2 separate regions of the Homo sapiens genome follow, and region 2 is linked to region 1. Evidence: fine-mapped expression QTL. Tissue or cell type: whole blood. Region 1 holds a variant in brackets; the other region holds the start of a gene. All regions are shown on one strand. Distances are between the middles of the regions.

Evidence for each region. PIP is the estimated chance that this variant, and not a neighbour inherited with it, causes the effect.
Region 2: TMEM120A starts here. The variant in region 1 is fine-mapped to the expression of TMEM120A in whole blood (TOPMed, PIP 0.98).

The regions. Positions count from the first base shown.
Region 1 is chr7:76,212,760-76,217,611 of GRCh38, reverse strand. All of the region lies in intron 1 of SRRM3 (serine/arginine repetitive matrix 3), which reads right to left. Among named protein-coding and RNA genes, the nearest start is that of SRRM3, 13 kb to the right of the region's middle. The variant C/T (reference allele first, on the strand shown) is at 2,492.
Region 2 is chr7:75,992,115-75,996,966 of GRCh38, reverse strand. TMEM120A (transmembrane protein 120A) reads left to right here and starts at 2,372. Exons shown (of 12, transcript NM_031925.3): 1 at 2,372-2,477; 2 at 4,410-4,528; 3 at 4,707-4,823. The coding sequence starts at 2,397. It overlaps STYXL1 (serine/threonine/tyrosine interacting like 1), which reads left to right. Exons shown (of 9, transcript NM_001317785.2): 9 at 368-625. The coding sequence ends at 499. RefSeq lists silencers at 2,131-2,580, 2,591-2,650 and an enhancer at 4,832-4,852.

The DNA of each region.
Region 1 (4,852 bases):
ATGCTGGACGTAAAACCTGCATTTGCGCCCAGGTGTGATGGCTCACGCCTGTAATCCCAGCGTGATTGGGAGGCCGAGGTGGGTGGATCACCTGAGGTCAGCAATTTGAGAACAGCCTGGCCAATATGGGGAAACTCAGTCTCTACTAAAAATACAAAACTTAGCCGGGTGTGGTGGCAGACGCCTGTAATTCCAGCTACTCGGGAAGTTGAGGCAGGAGAATCGCTTGAACTTGGGGGAAGGAGGTTGCAGTGGGCAGAGATTACACCATTGCACTCCAGCCTGGGGGACAAGAGCAAAACTTCATCTCAAAAAACAAAACAAAACAAAAGCTGCATTTGCTTTTGAGCCGTGCTCTTTCTGTGTGTGTGTCTTTCTATAATCCTCGCCTTCCCTTCAAAACCTAACAGGGGGAGCTGGGCTCTGAGTCCCTGGAAGTGCAAGACTAACAAGAATCAAAATTGGATGGTGATGTGTACCCCTACCCTACCCCTACCCAGGCCAGAGCTATCAGCAGGAAGGGTGTGTGCTGGACAGACAGTCCGGCCCCTTCCACCTGCTGAGGAGGGTGACAGGAGAAGCCACAGGCAGCTGCCTCCACTGCCCATACAATCTCATTATGGAACATTCCCTCTATTGACTCAGCTCCAATCAAGCTGGCTGCCTGGGGGGCATCCCCTCAGGTTTCTGCTGGGCCGGCTGAGATCAAAGAGAGAGTCGGGCTGGGGGCTGGAGCATCACTGACTTTCCCATCGATCCAGATGCGCCTCTCGTTGCTAGGCAACAGCCTCCAGTCTCTCCCGGTCTTTCCTCCCCCGAGGGGCTGCAGAATTGGACAGTAAAAGGGGAGAGAGGGAGAGACCCCACATTCACTCTCCATGTCATCCCCTCCCAAGCTAGAAACCTCTGTCACCAACCTGGGAACCTCTCCTCCCCAGAAAGCAATTCCCCTGTCCATGTTGAGAGCCTGACCCTCCCACCAAAATGAACCTCTTCTCTCTCCTCACATTTGTATGCACCTCCAGTGTACTGGAAATCCATTCCTCCTCTGCTCCATGTAAGCATTCTCTCAGGAAGACAGGCCAGGGACTCGCCATTGAAGAAATCAAGGCTCAGAGAAGGAAGGGACCCTCAAGGACTCAGTGGAAAAGTCAAGATAAGACTGCAGGCTCCCTGTCCAGGCTCAGTGGCTCATGCATGTAATCCCAGCACTTTGTGAAGCCAAGGTGGGAAGACTGCTTGAACCCAGTTCAAGACCAGCCTGGGGGCAGGCACGGTGGCTCACGCCTGTAATCCCAGCACTTTGGGAGGCCGAGGTGGGAAGACTGCTTGCACCCAGGAGTTCAAGACCAGCATGGGGGCAGGCATGGTGGCTCATGCCTGTAATCCCAACACTTTGGGAGGTCGAGGCTGGGGGATCACCTGAGGTCAGAAGTTCACGACCAGCCTGGCCAACATGGTGAATCCCCATCTCTACTAAAATGACAAAAAATTAGCCAGATGTGGGCCGGGCGCGGTGGCTCACGCCTGTAATCCCAGCACTTTGGGAGGCCAAGGTGGGCAGATCACGAGGTCAGGAGATCGAGACCATCCTGACTAACACGGTGAAACCCCGTCTCTACTAAAAATACAAAAAAAAAAAAAAAATTAGCTGGGCGTGGTGGTGGGCACCTGTAGTCCCAGCTACTGGGGAGGCTGAGGCAGGAGACTGGCATGAACCCGGGAGGCGGAGCTTGCAGTGAGCCAAGATCGCACCACTGCACTCCAGCCTGGGCGACAGAGTGAGACTCTGTCTCAAAAAAAAAAAAAAAAAAAAAATTAGCCAGGTGTGGTGGCACATGCCTGTTGTTCCAGCCACTCAGGAGGCTGAGACAGGAGAACATTTGAACCTGGGAGGCAGAGGTTGCAGTGAGCTGAGATCATGCCATTGCACTCCAGCCTGGGCGACAAGAGTGAAACTCTGTCTCAAAAAAAAAAAAAAAAAAACCAGACTGGGCAACATAGCAAGACCCTGACTCTACACAAAATAATAATAATAAAAAAATTAGCCAGTGTAGTAGTGCACGCCTGTAGTCCCAGCTACTCGGGAGGCTGAGGTGGGAGGATCATTTGGGCCTAGAAGGTTGAGGCTGTAGTAAGCTATGATTACACTACTGCACTCCATTCTGGGCAACAGAGCCAGACCCTGTCTAAAAAAAAAAAAAAAAAAAAAAAAAACTGCGGGCTCCTAACTCCCAGCCCAGTATTGGACTAAATATGGGAGCCATTTAATCTTCAGAGAATGTCTCTAAAGACAAATGCACACTCCCATTTTTCAGTGGGTTGGCTTTTTTTTTCTCTCTTCCCAAAACGTAGGATGCATTTCATAGTAGTTTTTTTTGTTGTTGTTTCAAGTGCTATAATTTAAAACTGTTAGTTGTGCTTTAAAACAGGCATAAAAATGTACTGTGGGTTTTGGGGGCTGTAATTGACTAAATAATGCAAATCTGAT[C/T]ATTTTATCACAGTTTAATATTTTGCATATTTTATCTACCCTATACTGCTCATCTTTCCTGTTTTTTTTTTTTTTTTTGAGTGAATATATGCACGTCATCCTAGCAGTTGTTATGTGGTGACCTACTTATTTCATGACTTATTTAGAATTTTAAGATCTCTCTCCCTCTGAGGTCTTTACAGCCCTTGGGGATGGAGGAAGGAAAGTCTCCCAGCTGGGCACAGTGGCTCATGTCTGTAATCCCAGAACTTTGAGAGGCTGAGGTAAGAGGATCACTTAAGATCAAGAGTTCTAGACCAGCCTGGGCAACATAACAAGACCCCATCTCTATTTTTTTTTTCTTTTTACAAAAAGGAAAGTTTCTCAGTCTTCCCACTGGTCCCTGCCAAACCTTTCCTTAAACAACTAAGGGAGAGGAAGAGTTGATGTGTTTCCCAAGGTGTGAGGGGCCAGAACTCAGAAGTTGGGGCTCCCTGAGAGGTGCCAGGAGGTGCACAGTCCCTGAGCAGCGGTCCTGGTGGCCTTGGAACTGCCACTGCCTGCCACCTGCACACTCCCAGCTGTTAGCATGGTGACAGCTCCTCCCCGACTCCCCTGCCCGGCACCAGTCACACACTTCAACTCTGAGGAGCACAGCTTTTCAAGGTCCTTGACAAATGGTAACCAATTAATGTCAATTAATCTGATTAGCCTAAATAGTTAATTAAGCAGCTAATTTACAACATCATTGACAACAACCCACGGCTCCTGAGGGATGGTGGGTGGGAGGTAGGAATGGCAGGGGTGCTGAAGGGAGGTCTTCCTTGCCCTGGGAACAGGTGAGCCCCTTAATGTCGGATCGGGAGTGGGAGCTCCTGGTGCAGCAGTGGCCTCTCCAAGTCTCCACTCTGCTCTGCCATCATCCGAGAATCTCCATCAGGGTACCCAGCCCCAGGCCAGGCTCAAAGGGGCTGATTTCTGTGGGACAGGGTGAACCACAGCATGGTGGAGGAGGGAAAAGGCCTCCTGTCTGGGAAACTATTCCACCCTAAAATCCCAGAGAGGGTTGGGCGCAGTGGTTCACGCCTGTAATCCCAACACTTTGGGAGGCTGAGGTGGAAGGATCACTTAGTCCAGGAGTTCAAGACCAGCCTGGGCTACATGGTGAGACCCCCCCATCTCTACTAAAAATTAAGAAAAAAAAATTAGCCAGGCATGGTGACATGCACCTGTAGTCCCAGCTACTTGGGAGGCTGAGGCAGGAGGATCGCTTAAGCCTGGGAGTTCGAGGCTGCAGTGAGCTATGATTGTGCCACTGCATTCCAGCTTGGGTGACAGAGCAAAATCCTGTTAAAAAACAAACAAACAAACAAAAAAACCAAAAACCCAGAGAGGAGCCTCTGCCACCACTTCCCATCCACACCAAGCACCTTAGAGCTCATAACCCCTTTCAAGTCCCCAAGCTACAGAGAAACCCTGAGAGAGAATTCCCATCCTTCAGCCCATCCTACAGATGAGGAAACCGAGTACCTCCTAGATGCCAGGCCCCATGCTTGCACTGACAACCTGCAACAATGAATCCCACGAGGTCCCTGCCCTTAAAGAACAGCCACCCTGGGCCTCACAGTACCTTGGTGCAACCTCTGTGGGTCAACCACTTCTTAGCTGGGCGATGTTATTTACCTCTCCGTGCCTCCATTTCCCCAACTAGGACCGACCTACATCATTGGATGTTGTGAGGACTAAATAAGTTAATACACGCAGCAGTGCCGGCACACAGAAAATACCAAATGAGTTGGAAAGGTAAACCACCAGTGTGAATGGGGTGTAAAGCCGGGCACGGTGGCTCACGCCTGTAATCCTAGCACTGTGGGAGGCTGAGGCGGGTGGATTGCCTGAGGTCAGGAGTTCGAGACCAGCCTGGCCAACATAGTGAAACCCCGTTTCTACTAAAAATTCAAAAAATTAGCTGGGCGTGGTGGCAGTCCCCTGTAATCCCAGCTACTAGGGAGGCTGAGGCAGGAGAATTGCTTGAACCTGAGAGGTGGAGGTTGTAGTGAGCTGAGATCACGCCATTGCACTCCAGCCTGGGCGACAGAGTGAGACTCCGTCTCAAAAAAAAAAAAAAAAAAAAAAAGGAATGGGGTGTAAAGTGGGCCAGGGAAGAAGCAGCACCGGGCCCTCGAGGGCACCCAGATTGGAACAGGACATCACGCAGAAGATGTCTGAGCAGAGCCTGAAGCTCAGGGAGGTAGAGGAAGAGGGAGGAAGGGCATTCCAGGCGAAGGGAACCACATGTGCAAAGTGATGAGGCACCGGTTCTCAACTCTAGTGTGTACGGTCCACCTTGGAACTTTAAAAAATGCAGACCTTGGCCAGGCG
Region 2 (4,852 bases), 220 kb after region 1:
TCCTCTTTCCATTAATTTGTCCAGTCACAATGCAAACCTTTGTTGAGACTGCACTAGGCTTGGCATAGTGTTTGCCATCCACAGGTGGTTTCATGTATATTGTCTTAATCTTCCCAGAAGCTGTTTGAAATAGGAATTATTTCTGTCACCAGATTTAGAAGCAGAGGGGCTTGCCCAAGGCAGAGTCAGCTCCCATGACTCCCAGCACTGATGCATTCATGCCAGGCTGCCCTGTTTCTGCATCCAGCCCTTAAGCCGTGTTGCTGGCACTGTGCAAGTGCCTCCTGTCTCTGAAAGCTGCCTCTGATCCAAGTGGAAAGGGCCCAGGACCAATCGTGAAGTTCACTTTCTCTCTTTGTATTCATAGAGGTCCTGGGCCTATGTCAAGAAGTGCAAAAACAACATGTGTCCAAATCGGGGATTGGTGAGCCAGCTGCTGGAATGGGAGAAGACTATCCTTGGAGATTCCATCACAAACATCATGGATCCGCTCTACTGATCTTCTCCGAGGCCCACCGAAGGGTACTGAAGAGCCTCACCTGGGGGCATTTTGTGGGTGGAGGGCCAGAGTGTGTATACCCAGGCTTGTCTGGAAGGAGAAGGCCTTTGCTGCCTGAAAGTCTCATGTTAGCCTCCTGTACTGATTCTTCCCAAGTGCCTGTTCACGCCACCTAGCTGATGCGCCCTGCTCAGGTTCACCAAGAACCCGCATCCCTGAGGTGTCGCGGGCCATCCCAACTGCACCCCTGAGGCTGCCTCTGGAAGAGCATCTGGCTGCTAGAGCAGCTGCCCTGCATCCCCCTGGTGACTTAGACCCTTTGGAGGCTGCCTGGGGGTACCCAGAGGTTGCCTGTGTTGGTTCACAGAGGATGTCACAATAGCCACCAATAGGCAGTCCCCTAGTCCCAGAGATACCAAGCCCAGCCTTGTCTAGCCCCCAGGCTCCTAGAATGGGATCACACCCTTGCCTCATCCCCAGCGCTTCCTGCCATCCACCCCTTGAAACAGATTTTCTTTCCCTGCTCCCCACTCATTTCTGCCTGGCTGTGTTCACCAAGGAGAGATTCTCACCCCCTCCCCCATCTCCCTATCCACGTTTCTAGAAATTCCTAAGGTCTTAAAAGTTTTCCTTTTTTTTACCCCCTTTCCTTTTTTTTGGAGGCACGGTCTTGCTGTGTCTCTCAGGCTGGAGTGCAGTGGCGCAATCATGGCTCACTGCAGCCTCAACTTCCCTGGGCTCAAGCGATCCTCCCACCTCAACCTCCTGAGTGAGTAGCTGGGAATGCAGGCATGCACCATCACACCTGGCTAATTTATTTTTATTTTTGTAGAAACAGGGTCTTGCTCTGTTGCCTAGGCTGGTCTCGAACTTCTGGGCTCAAGTGATCCTCCAGCCTCGGCCTCCCCAAAATGCTGGGATTACAGGTGTGGGCCACGGCACCCAGTTGGAAGTTGTTTTCCAAATGCACTTCTCCAAAGCTGGCAGCACCCACAGAACAAACTGGGCATCAGGAGACGGCACAGACTAGGGGACTGGTAGGGGATTAGGATGTCCATCCATGCAGGACCTTCCCCAAGTCCATTCGGCAACCATTCCCTGCCACCGCGTGGGTGGGGCTGGGAACAGAGAGATGAATGCCGTCCCACCACTTAGCGCGCTCTGTGGAGGGATGGGGGTGGGAGGGGGTGGGGGATTCCCCTCAACAGAAGGGCAGGCCTTCAAGGAGGAGTGGGGTTTTGCCAGAGGGGGAACGGCTTTACACACAGCCCTGGCTTTCCTCAGGGTGTGAGTTGGGACAGAGCCCGGGATGGCTGCAGAGCTCCGATTAGGGACCTCCTGGTAGGCAGGACACAGCCGCTGGAAAGTTTTAAGCATGAACATGATGGGGAATCAGCCTTGTGTTTTGGGAAGGGCAGTCCGGTGGCCGCGAGAAGGGACAGTGGAGGTGAGGCAGGGAGAAAGGAGGCCGCTGTAAAAATCCAAGCGAGAGAAGCAGCTCTAACTCCCTTCCCCAAAGAGGCTCAGCTTCCCAAGGACGAAAATGTTGCAAGCAGGTGTCACCTCCCTGCACCTTGGTTTGCTCTCAGCATGACGGGCCAGAGCCCTGCTGGCTGCACCACGCGGCTGGCACAGTCAGTGCAGTCCAGGCCCGGGGGCTGCAGCCGTCCCAGTCCCGGTCCAGGCCGCGAGTCCCGGGGCTAGCAACCGCCCTTGCATACGGCCCCGCCCATACCCCGCCCCTGTCCCGGATTGGCTGGGGTGGGGGGCGTGGCCTTTCCCCATTGGTGCCCGTGGCGGCGCGAGCCCGGAAGCGGACGGGGGCGGTGGCGGAGGAGCCTCGGGTGGGCCGGGGTTGCTGCGCCGTCCTCCACTACTGGCTACTGGCGCTGCAGCCATGCAGCCCCCGCCCCCGGGCCCGCTGGGCGACTGCCTGCGGGACTGGGAGGATCTACAGCAGGACTTCCAGAACATCCAGGTTAGCGCCGCTGCGGACGCCGGGTCGCCCCCGAGCCGCGTCTCGCTGGCTCAGGGTCAAGGGTCGGGCAGCCCTGGGTCAGGCAGTGGGGAGCTAAGGGTCAGGGGTCGGGGCCCTGGCGTCACTGCCAAGGGGGGCGAGGCCCCTGGTCCTGGTGTCCACTGCCACCACCTCCAGTGTCCGGGAACCCCGGCGGGACCCCATCGCGCTGGGCGACCTCGGCTTCCAATGAGGGCCTTGGAAAGGGGCCCAGACCCCGACCCCGTCCCTTCCCAGAAGAGAGCGGCCGCCTGAGTCACACACGGGCGGGCCCAGCCTTGGGTCAGCCACTCAGCAAACGCGCAGCGGGCAGCGCCCGAGAGGCAGCCCAGGTCGGGGGAGCAGCGTTTAGGGGGGTGTCCTCGGCCTGGATGGGGGACGCCCCAGGCAGAGGGATACCGCGCGCCGCCGAGGCCTTTGGAAGGAAAGAGGGGACTTGACAGGCCCATGTGGCTGCATCAAGGAGAACCAGGGGAGGGGTGGGACGGGTGGGAGGGGTGGGCGGGGCTAGGCCCTGCAGGGACGCTCTGGCCTGGCAGAGATCAGAGTCCCTCCGAGGCCAGTGGAAAGCTACGGGAGGAATTGTCTGGACTGAGCTCCCCAGGGCCACCGTGGCTGTTCTGTCCAGAGGCCAGGGAGGAGGAGGCTGTTGGCCTCATCCAGGCAGGGAAGAGGGCGGTGGCTGTGGGTGGGCAGAAGTGGCACGTGCTGGGGTCCGAGGGGGCGTGGTGACCCCTCCTGGGCATGAGAAACAAGATCCAGACAGAGTAGAGCCCTGGCCAGCTGATGGCTTGGTTAGCCCTTGGCCTCTCCTGGACTGGTTCCAACTGCTTCCTGTGGGCATTGAAACCCAGCTGCCCCTGGCCCTGCCAAGGCCCCTGCCATTGGTGCTTCTCCCCAGAGACTGAGCAGACCCAGTCTCCCCGCCTGGCCGCCGCTGTCCTGGCCACAGCCCCTGCTTGGCTCTCCTCACACTGCCCCTTGCCCCATCTCTAGGCTGCGCCTTCTTGAGACTCACCTACCAGGGCAAAGTGCTTGGGGAATCCTTGGGCCAAAGGTGCTAGGGGAAGGGAGTGGGGCTGGCCTTAGAGCAGGAGGCTCTAGGGTTGAAACCTGATGACCTTTAACCTGGGAAGAAGATGTCAGGGATTCCTGAGAACCTGAGCTCCTCCTGTACTGGAAGGCTAGATAGGCAGGAGGAGCTGAGAGGATAGAGGGGTGGCTCTGGGCTGCCTGCTTGGTCCAGGAGGTGGCCCTGGGGGCCTAAGCTCCAGACTCAAGGTAGGAGAAAGAGTCTGTCCTTGTAGGGTGGGGACAACTAGCAGATGGGCTGAGACTAAGAAAACCTTGGCTGGGTGCGGTGGCTTATGCCTGTAATCCCAGCACTTTGGGAGGCCGAGGCAGGCAGATCACCTGAGGTCAGGAGTTCAAGACCAGCCTGGCCAACATGGTGAAACCCTGTCTCTACAAAAATACAAAAATTAGCCAGGCATGATGGCAGGTGCCTGTAATCCTAGCTACTTGGGAGGCTGAGGCAGAAGAATGGTTTGAACCCGGGAGGCGGAGGTTGGAGTGAGCTGAGATCCTGCCATTGCACTTCAGCCTGGGCAACAGAACAAGACTGTCTCAAAACAAAAACAAAAACAAAAACACCTAGTCTGTTTTTGGAGGAGGGGTGCTGTGGGGGTCTCTGGGCTCACAGGAGGACACCCAGGTCCTTGCCTGCCTTGGGGAGACAGCCACCTCATCCCTGGGCAGGCACAGTTCTACCTCCTTTCCCGCTGAGCGAAACCCTCCCAGCAGCCCTGGGGGAGCCTGAGCGCCACGTCCTGCCTGCAGGCTCTGGCTCAGTAGCTCCCCAACTGGCCTGAGCCTCTCCCCTCCGGCCCCCAGGAGACCCATCGGCTCTACCGCCTGAAGCTGGAGGAGCTGACCAAACTTCAGAACAATTGCACCAGCTCCATCACGCGGCAGAAGAAGCGGCTCCAGGAGCTGGCCCTCGCCCTGAAGAAGTTAGGATCCCCTACCCCACCCGCCATGGGCAGAGTGTGGGGTGGGAGGGCTGGCGCTGTGAGACCCTGGGCACCGCCCCTCCCCTCTCTGGGCCCTGTTTGCCCTTCTGCCCCTGTGGGAGTCAGGGAGGACACTTGGGAGTCCTCTTGCCCTGACTGTTTCTGGCCTTACCCGCAGATGCAAACCCTCCCTCCCAGCAGAGGCCGAGGGGGCCGCACAGGAGCTGGAGAACCAGATGAAAGAGCGCCAAGGCCTCTTCTTTGACATGGAGGCCTATTTGCCTAAGAAGAATGGGTGAGGGCCCCCACCGCCACCCCCAGCTC